Homo sapiens: one gene and its partner. The protein of the gene in region 2 interacts with the protein of the main gene of each other region in a biochemical or structural test. Each region holds a gene or a part of one and is shown on either strand. Other genes may lie near its edges.

Region 1 (4,136 bases), on a different chromosome or scaffold from region 2:
ATGCACAAATGAAATGATGTAATGAGAAATGTGCAATATTGTTTGTTATAGCAAAAGAAAGACTGACAACAGACTACATATCCCACCAAAGGGAACTGCTTAAATAAAATATCCTATGAACATATAATGAAATATTATACAGCTATAAAAAAGAATGAGAAAGCATTTTATATATTTAAATGAAAAGATTTCTTGAGTCCATATTTAAATTTAAACAAACAAACAAGTAAGGTGCATAACTGGGTGCAGAGAATGCTATATCCTATGAAATAATAATAGGAAAAAAATAAATAGGAACATATATATTATTTTAACTGCTTATATAATAATTAATAAAGAAAGACCCTCTGGAAGACTAAATAAGAAATTAATAATGTCTACTCATAGAGCAATGAGGATGATTGATTGATATGGGGGAAGGGGTAGTTAGGAGTGTTTTCACTGTCTTTCTGGATTATAGTTTTTTACTCATATGCATGTATTACCTATTTAAAAAGTAAGTAAGTAAGTAACAACAACTAAATTAAAATAAAAACAAAGTACTGCAGTCCAGTCAATACTTTTTTGTAACATAACTGCGTGCTTTATTGAGATACACAGTAAAGCAGTACTATAATACAATAGTAAGGCATATATTTGGTGAAGTCTGATATGTTGTGAAAATGCAGTAAAACTGAAGTTTAAAAAAATAATTCGTAAATGTTACAGTGTTGGTGTTAAAACACAATATATTATGATACTCAAGTAAGAACTCAGTACCTGAAAACAATGACAAAACATGCCATGTGATGTTTATGCTTCAGTTACATTATGATTTACAGTTTAATACTTGGTGGTTATAAAGAACACAACACGAAATAATGTCCAAATTAATTATGCTTAAAATGCAGCAATAAAGCTCTCAATTTTTGTTCAAATATTATGACAGACTCACTCCAGAGCTAATGTGTCTAAAAGAAAAACAAAAAGATTAAAACAAAATTATTTATGCACTCTATTTACCTCTGATTTTAGAATGAAACTTACTTACTTAAACTTCTTAGTAGGATGTAAAGTAACCCCTTGTTTTAAATCTGAGTTTTAAAAATCCTTGGGTAAAGAAAAGGTCCAGCGTCACATAAAGGAAAAAAATGCAAGACAAAAACCAAATCTTCATGTAATTTGGTAATTTGTTACCTTAGAGCTTTGGGTTTTCTTTTGAAAATTATGAAGGAAAAAGAAAGAATTATAAAGGAAAAAGAAAATAACGCAATGGACAAGTGGTGAAGCTGTGAACTCAGGTGTGCACAATTATCAGGAACACCCCAAAACCAAAGTGAGGTAGAAATAGCATGAGAAGCCGTGTTTGATGTTAATTAATTAATTATTAATAATGGACAAAACCCACTCTCCAAAAGCTAATTACACTTGATGTCAGCCCACTCTCCAAAAGCTAATTACACTTGATGTCAGAGGTAACAGATTTGCAAAATTATAGGTCACACGGTGGTATCTATTGAATGAATGATTTAAAAATCAAAAAGAAATAAAATGGCATGAAAGAGTAAAGCTTTTTCCTACCAGTCCTTAGCTTTTCCTCTTGAGCTTTTCTCCTCTTTTTTGAGCAATTTTTGTTTGTTTGTTTATATATTTAACCTGTCTAATCCACCAAGAAGGGTTTTTTTGTAACATTTGAATCAATTTGCCTTCTTTCTTACTTACTTACAAACCTGTGTGGAACTACTCGCAGAGAAATGCAAAGGATGGAAACACAGTTCATGGGCTTCTGGGTTGATACCTGTCAGTATCACAAATGTGATGGGGCTACTGTTTTACACCTTTTCCCAAAGTTTATTTATTTTAAATTATGTCTTGTGGCATTTAAAAACTCATCCCACATGGGACAATAAATCTAAAAAAGCAACAAAAACCAAACCACCCAGTTCCTTTTGACTGTGAGAAGAGGGCATAATAATTTAGTTGTAATTACAGAGAACTTTATGTATTATGAACAATCATCCAATCCTTCACTTAAAGAGTGGCCTACTCCTTCACAGGGATGGGCTGGGAATCCATAGCCCTCCAGCCCTATCATCGTCCTGCTACTGCTTGGGAGTTAAAAAATACCTTCTGATGTTCACAAGGTCAGAATACCTTCTGATTGATTTCCACTGAAGCATCATTAAATCTAAATCGTGGCATTGCTAGCAGCAGGAAGCTGAATGTATCAATCAATCAATCAATCAACCAACCAACCGATTACTCACTCTGATATAATAAGTCCTGTGTATTCATTCACATGTTCCCTTTAAAAAAATCCAATACTTTACTTTACTTTCGTTGTCAGTGGAAAGTTGTTTAAAATGAGAAACATCTGGAGCTGTAGACAATGTTTTAGTGTGGTGTAGTTTCCTCCTGGCTTCCGGCTCCGGGAAAAATCCATTCTAGACCAAGCAGGTAAGCCTGGATGACTGACTAGAAGTAATTTCTTTCTATTAGGATGTGACATGAACATTTAAAAAATGGAAAAAGTCAGTCTATAGAAATTCGTATCTCTTTATCTATATAACTATAGTATTTATATACTTATAGACATATAGATATATGAAATGAAAACTCAAGCCTGCCCCACTCAGCTGACAGTTCTCAAATGAGCAGTGTGTAGTAGTCATTTGGTGTGGTGGTAGAGGAAGTCTTATCTTTAATATGCAAAAAAAGAAAAAGCCATGAATTTCATATGGATATCACGCCAAAAGGATGCAAAACAATGCGCTGCCTCAAAGTTTTGTGTGTGTGTGTGTATGTGTGTGTGTGTGTGTTTGTTTTGTTTTTAGGGGTTTTTATAAACAACTTTTTTTTATAAAGCACACTTTAGTTTACAATCTTTCTTTATAACTGTTATAAATTTTTAAACAACCCAAAATGCGTTCCATATAAAGAAATGGCAAGTTATTTAGCTATCAAGATTTTACATGTAGTTTTCTTATAACTTTTTTGTACAATTGCATAGACGTGTAAAACCTGCCATTGTTAACAAAACAATAACAGACTTAGAAACTACTGAAATCTACAGTATAATACCACTACCCTTCACAAAAATATAGATTTATTTCTTGTAAACTCTTACTGTCTAATCCTCTTTGTTGTATGAATATTATAAAAACCATGCGGGAATCAGGAGTTGTAAAACATTTATTCTGCTCCTTCTTCATCTGTCATGACTGATACTAAGGACTCCATCGCTCTGCCCAAATCATCTGCCATGTGGAAAAGACTTCCTACATTGTGTCCTGGAAAACAAAGAGAAAGAAAGACAGACTTTACAAAAGGTGCAGATAGATAGCATCACTCTGTTTCTTTGCCATTTGGGAAATCATTCCCCATTTCTGGGTGAAGACAACACAGAAGCTGCATCGAGGGTGTACACAACAAGGTTTGATTTTTCACCAGTTTCCAGGAAGAAGCAAAGCCTTATTAATGAAGCCATTACACGTTGTTTGTTAGTATCAGCTTAATGTTGGATCAGGCTACTGGTGTTTACATGGAAAAATGTCAAGCTACATTCAGGTTCCCAATGTAAATATATATCAAAAGAATTCCATAGATAAGCACAAGATTTCTATCAGAACAGGAATATTCCATGATGGGATACATCTTTTCCACCTTGGCTATGAGTGATTGATTGATTACTTACTCTCTACTTGTATTAACGAACATTTTTTTTACTATCAATCAAACCACCATCACCACCTTCACAACTACCACTACCATCACCAGCACCCAACCATCGTCACCATTATCACTGCCACCATCACCGCCACACCAACTTTTCATTTCAAAGCTGTTTCAGGCTGTTGGCTTGCTTCTGAGGCTATGGTGGAGGTGGCTATTTTCTCTCTGCTTTTACTTGGGTTGAAAAATAATAATAATAAACTCTTGAATTGACCTTTTGGTGCACTATTAACATTTGAATTAGGAAACCTCAGAATAAAAATTGCTTTACATTCCAAATTACTCTAGACCCTAATTATAAGGTGACCCACATGTATTGTATGCATTTGGGTATTTTGTGAATCCATCTTAGAGCTCCTCCTAAATGAGGGTTAACTATCACAATAGCCTTTTACTAATAATGCAGCACGACCTAGCACGAATCT
Region 2 (7,308 bases):
AGAGCGGTGCAAGAAGGCTGGTCTATGCAGGTGAGTAGCTACTGTGAGGGCACTATCTATTCAGGCCCGACTCCTCTGCCTCTCTCCTCCTAGCCCGCTGTCCATGCCCTGGTTGACCAGAAGATGTCCCAGGAGCACTCCCCTCTGGCCCCTTCATCTCCATCTCACGTTGCATTCGAAGAGGATTTTTAAATGGGCAACCTCAGTCCCTCCCTATGCTTGACATGCTTTAGTGGCTGTCCTTTGTTCCTCAGATAAAGTTCATGTGCTTTATTAAGGCCTTTTCCTATGATCTGTTCCATCCAAACACCAACACCAACCTCATACCCAAGATGACTACAGCTGTAACAAACTTGTTTGCCTTGTTGAAGGGACACATACTTCTTTGTAGCTCTGGGCAAGTTTATACATTATTCCTTGGACCAGGTTGCTCCTCCCCTCCTACTGGCTGGACTCCAACCCCTGCCATGACACATCTTCCTCTGTGGAGCCCTTTCACAGTCACTTAGGTTTCAGTTCATTAAAAGCCTCCTCCAAAATGCCCTTCCTAAACTCCTTCATCAGCTGGAATTTTTGTGAGTTCAACTCTCTTATACTGTTGTATTTATCCTTAATACCTAGTGGAGTGCTTGGCACATAGAAGGTACTCGAAGTAACTGATATGAATTAACAGACAAAAATGCATTCACAAATCAGTTAACCAATTCCTAATCTTCACAGCACCCTCTGCATCCATAGCTGCATTTCACAGATGAAGAACTGAAGTTCATAGTGCCCAATACACTCATAAAGGGTAATGTTTTAGTAACAGAAGTGGCATTTGTTGCCAAATTCCTTTTTCTGAAACCTTTGCTCTCTCATCAGTACCAGGCTGGCTCTCTGGTTCCCATCTTTTTTCCCAAATTATCAATATTTACGCTGAGAGACAGAGACAGTGTAGTATCATGTGCAAGAGCACAGAATTTTGACACATTGCAAGATTCATATCTTTAGCTCTGATATTTACTAGCTGTGTGACCTTAGGCTATTTACTTAAACTGCTTTTTGCCTCAGTTTCCAAATCTCTAAAATGGGAATAACAATAACTGACAGATAGTGGTGCTGTAAATACAAACTGAATTCATATACTAAGCACTTAGGACAACACCTGGCACATACATATAAACTATATGTACCAGATAAACCTTATTGCTTCATTTTTGTTATTACTGGTGTAGCTTCATTATGAACACATCAGAAGGGACAGGATTTTCCTGATTAATGGTCACAGGCAAGTTCTTCTGTGATCCAGACATTCAAATCTGACTTTTAATTAGCCTCACCTGAGGGATCCATTTTCTGGAGGCAGAAGTCTACAACTTGCACAGCTTGCATCAGAAGTGATACCTCATGGCAGGAGAGGGCTGGGCTGTAGAAGACTCCCCCTCTGATTTAGGCTGTAGAAGATGCCCCTTCTTATTTGCTCACCTGCCCCACCTATCTGACTGGCTTCCTTATCAACCAGTGATCCTGACACAGGAGAAGGCCAGAAGGTAATCTGCATGCAGGAAAATAATCCATTAGCATCGAATCTAGAAGCCACTCCTCTGTTCTCATGCTACATGAAATTTTCCTTTGGGAAAAGGAATGCTTGAAGGATGGCTTTATATGTCTAATGTCAAGCCACAAAGCATAAAGCACCAGCATTGTACTTACTAAGGGGAGGGGGACTTCCTTGATTACATACAACAATTGAAGGTAGATTTACATTGTATTTGATGTATGAGAATACTTATCGCCAGGCCTCACTAACCTATGTAAACATTTTCCCAAGTAGAACATCACACACCAGGGCCTGTTGGGAGGTTGGGGGCAAGGGGAGAGACATCATTAGGACAAATACCTAATACATGCAGGGCCTAAAACCTAGATGATGGGTGGATAGGTGCAGCAAACCACCATGGTACATGTATACCTACGTAACAAAACTGTACGTTCTGCACATGTATCCCAGAACTTGAAGTATTAAAAAAATTCAAGTAAACTAAGGCTTATAGAAAATTGTATATAGAAAGTTAAAATGAGAAGTAGTCTTTGATTTTAATTTGGTCAGAATGTAAATATACAGGCACTCTCATAGACACTTCTGATGGCCGCATAAGTTAAGATGACTTGTAGGAGGCAATTTGTACACATGGATTTAATATCTTGAATACATTAAAATATTTTTCCACATGGGGTTTCCAAAGCTCAGAATTTAGACTAAAGGAAATAAGAATTTGCATAAAAGTCTGAGCAAATATCAGTCCTTCCTACATATTATTATTTTGTCTCATTTATTTACTTACTATTTTTGTCTTCTTTATTGATTTACTTAACATCATATCACCTAATAAAATGCAAGCTCAATGAAAGCAGTGGCTTTTTCTGCATTTTTCTCAGCCACATAACAAGTGCTGAGGTTACCTGGTATATAGCAAACATTTAATTTTCTATTAAACCATTCAAATAATGATTGTTGTGATATGCCTGATAGCAATAACAAGTGGGGGAAAAAACTAAATGTAAAATTTTAAAGTGGACTCAATGAATACAAGCAAATGATGGGATAGATGAAATCTATCAAAAAGTTATCAGTGTTTTTAAGGAACATTAACTGTCATAGAAAAAAATCTCAAGACATATTTTTACACAAAATAGCAGATCATGAATTGCATAATCTTTGTCAAAAATTGTAACAAAGAGATAGAACATATTGTTTGTATATCTTGATAGAGCTAAACATAATGTTTATTATTTCCTTTAAAATTATCCTTTTTAACTACTATAGTAAACTGCATTATGTTCTAATGTTTAAATAGCTTTTTTTAAAAGAGAGGATTTAAAAGATCATGCAGCTACTTGGAGAGTGGTTAGAAAATAATTTAAGTCTAAGTAAGAATATATAAATATGTGTTGCGTTATTACTATGATAAAAGTTGTATTAGTGTACAGATAGAGAATAGACAAAGTTGATTTGTTGAGGCAGTTTTCTTTCCTTCCTTCCTTCTCCCTCCCTCCCTCCCTTCCTTCTCCTTCCTTCTTTCCTTTCTCCCCTCTGTGCACTCCCTGCCCTTCCTCCCTTTCTTTTTTCTCTTTCTTTCTTTCTTCTTTCTTTCTTTCTTTTCTTTCTTTCTCTTTTTCTTCCTTCCTTCCTTCCTTCTTTCTCTCTCTCTCTTTCTTTCTTTCTTTCTCTTTCTTTCTTTCTTCTTTCCTTCTTACTGTCTCTCTTTCTTTCTCTTTCTTTCTTCTTTCCTTCTTTCTCTCTCTCTCTCCTTCCCTCCTTCTTTCCTTCCTTCTTTCCTTTTCTTTTCTTCTTTTCTTTTCCTTCTTTTCTTTTCTTTCTTTCTTTTCTTCCCCTAATTACATGAGTAGCTTTCCTAAAAATACACAGTTCGCCCTGGCGCGGTGGCTCATGCCTGTAATCCTAACACTTTGGGAGGCGGAGGTAGGCAGATTGCCTGAGCTCAGGAGTTCAAGACCAGCTTGGGCAACATGGGGAAACCCTGTCTCTACTAAAATGCAAAAAGTTAGCTGGGCATGGTGGCATGTGCCTGTAGTCCCAGCTACTCAGGAGGCTGAGGCAGGAGAGTTGCTTGAACCTGGGAGGTGGAGGTTGCAGTGAGCCGAGATCACACCACTGCACTCCAGCCTAAGCAACAGAGCAAGACTCCATCTCCAAAAAAAAGAAAGCTATCTCATTAGCCATTTTGGCAATTATTTCAGAAAACTGGAGTCGTGTATGATCTCCTTTTCCTCAGATACTAGCCTCTGTTTAAGAAATTGTCAGACCCTTCTTTACTAACAATACACTCAAGTATTTCAGGTTGTCCTTCCACCATTACGCCTACAGAAGAACTCAAAGCATGCACAGTGATGAGCAATCAATGAACTATACTTTTGGCTGGATTTTGCACTTCAGAGAACTTCAGCTTTAATCCAAAGTTCTCTATAAGGAACAGAAACTATAAACAATTTTGAGGTAATTATAATTTTTGTCTCTCTGCCTTCAGACACTTTTGATGCATTTTATTATATTTTAAATGTTTCAGCATTTTTCTACTCTGCTAAGTCTTTAACGGGAAGAGAAATAGCTAACATAAAGCAAAGGGAAATTAGCTCCCCTTGGATACAGAAACAAGGTCAACCTTATGCAGGAATTTAATTATCAATCTGTGGTGAGTCCAAGCCTACAAACCCTAAAGTAGAAAGTGAATATATATTAGTCTTCATGTTTTATAGGTTATTCCAATTTTAATTCTTTAAAAAACGCTATAGAAACCATGTGACATTTTATAGAATTTGTGATGGCTTGATATTGTAATAATCCTGCATATGGCATGAAATTCAACTGATATATGACAATCGAATGTTCTTTTACATATGCAAAAAGATGGTCAAGCCATGAGATTAAGAACAAAACAGCAAAACTTTTCTTTGCATTTTTCCTGATATTTTCTATATTTTCTAATTCCAGGTCTCACCCAAATCTTTCTCTTTTGCATTTTATTCAGAAAAAAAGAATTAAAAAAAAAAACATGGTAACAACCAACGTTTAAATTCAGACTACTTTCAACTGAATTTTCTTCTTCCCCAGTGAACTCCTGAGGAGCTTCTCCCTGTTCCCTCACCCACGGTGGGACTGCAGAGTCTGCTTGCAAGTTATTTAAGCAGATAGCTGAGTGCCAGTGCACTTCTGTGCATTCTATATTTTCTCTTTTTTGTCCAGTTTATTTTCTTTCTCTTTCATTTGTCTTTATCGTGTCTCTTCTTTCATTCCATGAATGATTTGTTTTCATGAGCTGCTTATGAGCCCAGAGGCACTATTTGCTGAGGAAAAGCCATTCAAATACTGACTACATATTGATCATACCTTGAGGATCTTGCACATAATCTCATAAACTGAGAATGTTTTCTCTGCTCTCGTCCAGTCCCAGGTGGTCACCTTTAAAAGATAAGAAAATAATGTTTAATTTGTTTTAGAAAGTTATTTACCACTGTATTTGATTTGCATAATATAGTGAAAAATAAGAAAAAACTTTCACAGATGTATCTAGTCTCTCATCTGTGAAGCCATGCTCATAAAGGACCCTACATAATGCTTTTGTTTCCTCTTTTCCAAGCTTTGTTACCATTTGTCTTATGCTTTCAGCAAATGATTTATATTATGTGCAACAGTTCTCATTTGCCCAGTGTCCTTATATATCTTAAATAATATACGCATTCTCTACCTATAAATACTAAGTATTTACATTCCACACTCATATTTTTTTTTTAATTTACCACTAGTTAAATACAGAGAATACCAGACCTCAACACAGCTATATTTTTTAAATATACATCATTTATATTAAGAAATTCCAAGATGACTGTGACATTGCAAACATACCCAAAGCATAATGCAGTTATTTCACTTACTTAGGTTGGAAACTATATTTAACTGTCTTGTCAAATAAATTATTCAGAGTAGGAATAGAGTAAAATATATAAATATCAATTTTTCCTCTGTCTTCCTAGTGCTTTAAACTTTGTGTAGAGACAGACATTTAAAACAGCAGCAAGTTAGACCTGATGATTTCTAAATCTTATGTATTATTAGACCTGCAAGTGACTGGTCTGGCATTTGGTATTTATATTCAATAAATATTTATTAAGTGTCTTCTGAGCTGCAAGGTACATGTTTCCAAAAGCAAGACTTGAGGTGCAATAGGTATCTATACATATCTAGTACAAATCTCAATAACTAGGATATAGAATATAATAGAAGATGAAAATGTTATTGATTTTATATAGAGAGACCTGTACAACATAAATAAGCAAGTTCGACTTGTCATAAATGATAGCTTACCAGAATGTATTTGTGTTGTTTGCCAAGGATAGAATCCTCTAATTTAAATGTTGAACACCATGAGAGTTAACATCATCCTATGGGATTACCATAGGGTGAGATAGACTTAATAGTAGCTAGATAAGATGCTATCATTTTGAAATTTCCTTATTATTCTTTGCTAATAATAAATTACTAGTAATTAAAAGTGCTGAATAAATTTAAAAGAACTTTCAAAAGATCCTTGGAAAATAAGAGTTTAGTAAACATGTTCATTCATGTATAGCCCTAAAACAGTTTATTCTTTTTTATTTCACTTTTGATATATTCATTTCTTTAATTTTTATTCCATAAACAAAATACACTGACATATGCTTGAAAATGTTTCTTAAAATCTCCTTTCCCATGTCGTCATGAGATTTGTAATGGCATTATAATTTGATCCATTATTTTATAGGTTCACTATTTATAAAGAAGTAAGTTCCAGACTTTTCAAGGGTGTTAAAGCAAATGTTTAATGTCAGAATATATATTTTAGTAAGTTAAATCAGATAAACTGATTTCTACTTTTTCTCTATATTATTTTTTAAAAATATTGATGGTATACTATTTGGTGCTGTTAAGTTGGTGTCAATCTCTTGTGATAATATGGAAACGACCAATACATTTCAATAAAACACGTACTGGAGGTGCCAGAAACTTGTAGAGACATGAGCCCCTCAGGGCCAGGAAGGTCGGGGAGTACACTCTGTCCTGGAGGGGGTCTTGCTCCCGGGCTTCACACCAGCCCATGTAGACAATCTGCAAGAAAATGGAATACAATCAACTGTCAAAACTTCTTATTTTAGATATCTTATATCTAAAAATATTTAGATGCAAATATTAAAAATATTTTAGGTATTTTTCATGTAGTATTAAAAACTCACATAAAATTATCAAATTGATTGATGCAAAAAAGTACATTAAACCAGATTTGGCTTCAGTAAATGAATGTAAACCTCTCATAAGAATTTCTTATACGTTTCTACCAGCATTTATCAAGTGTTTATGCCATCCAACCTGCCATGGATTATATTTCCCACTCTATCAATTCTTACAGAAAAAAATACTTATTTATAATAGAATTCATTGATGCATCGCACTTGTTTACCAATTACTGACATTTTATTAATTGGGAATGTGCTTTAATACAGAATGTTGAAGTGAGTAAAGAAAGCAAATCAGATAGACATCTTATGGCAATACCACTAGGGCGGCACACCACTTCTCCTCTGTGCCTGATAGGGGAGAATGATAAATGCCCTCCTTTTAATCATTGATCTTAGATGAATACAATTTATGCTAGTGTATTCATATATCAAATGGCATTGAAATCAACTCTTTAGCCTCTAGTGCTTAATAAAGGCAGATCGATTTCCAAACAAAGATTTTGTGAGATGAGCCACTCCTCTTTTTATGATCTG

What was found.
Region 1: the proteins of SNTG1 (region 2) and DMD form a complex in vitro, tested with the Homo sapiens proteins (one study listed by BioGRID).

What each region holds. Positions count from the first base shown.
Region 1 is NC_000023.11:31,118,662-31,122,797, forward strand, and holds the end of DMD (dystrophin), read right to left. Parts: intron 3,270-4,136; coding exon 3,258-3,269; coding exon of another isoform or gene 3,172-3,257; 3' UTR 561-3,171; downstream 1-560. UniProt on the Homo sapiens protein: Anchors the extracellular matrix to the cytoskeleton via F-actin. Ligand for dystroglycan.
Region 2 is NC_000008.11:50,656,247-50,663,554, reverse strand, and holds part of SNTG1 (gamma-1-syntrophin), read right to left. Parts: intron 6,647-7,308; coding exon 6,530-6,646; intron 4,964-6,529; coding exon 4,892-4,963; intron 1-4,891. UniProt on the Homo sapiens protein: Adapter protein that binds to and probably organizes the subcellular localization of a variety of proteins. May link various receptors to the actin cytoskeleton and the dystrophin glycoprotein complex.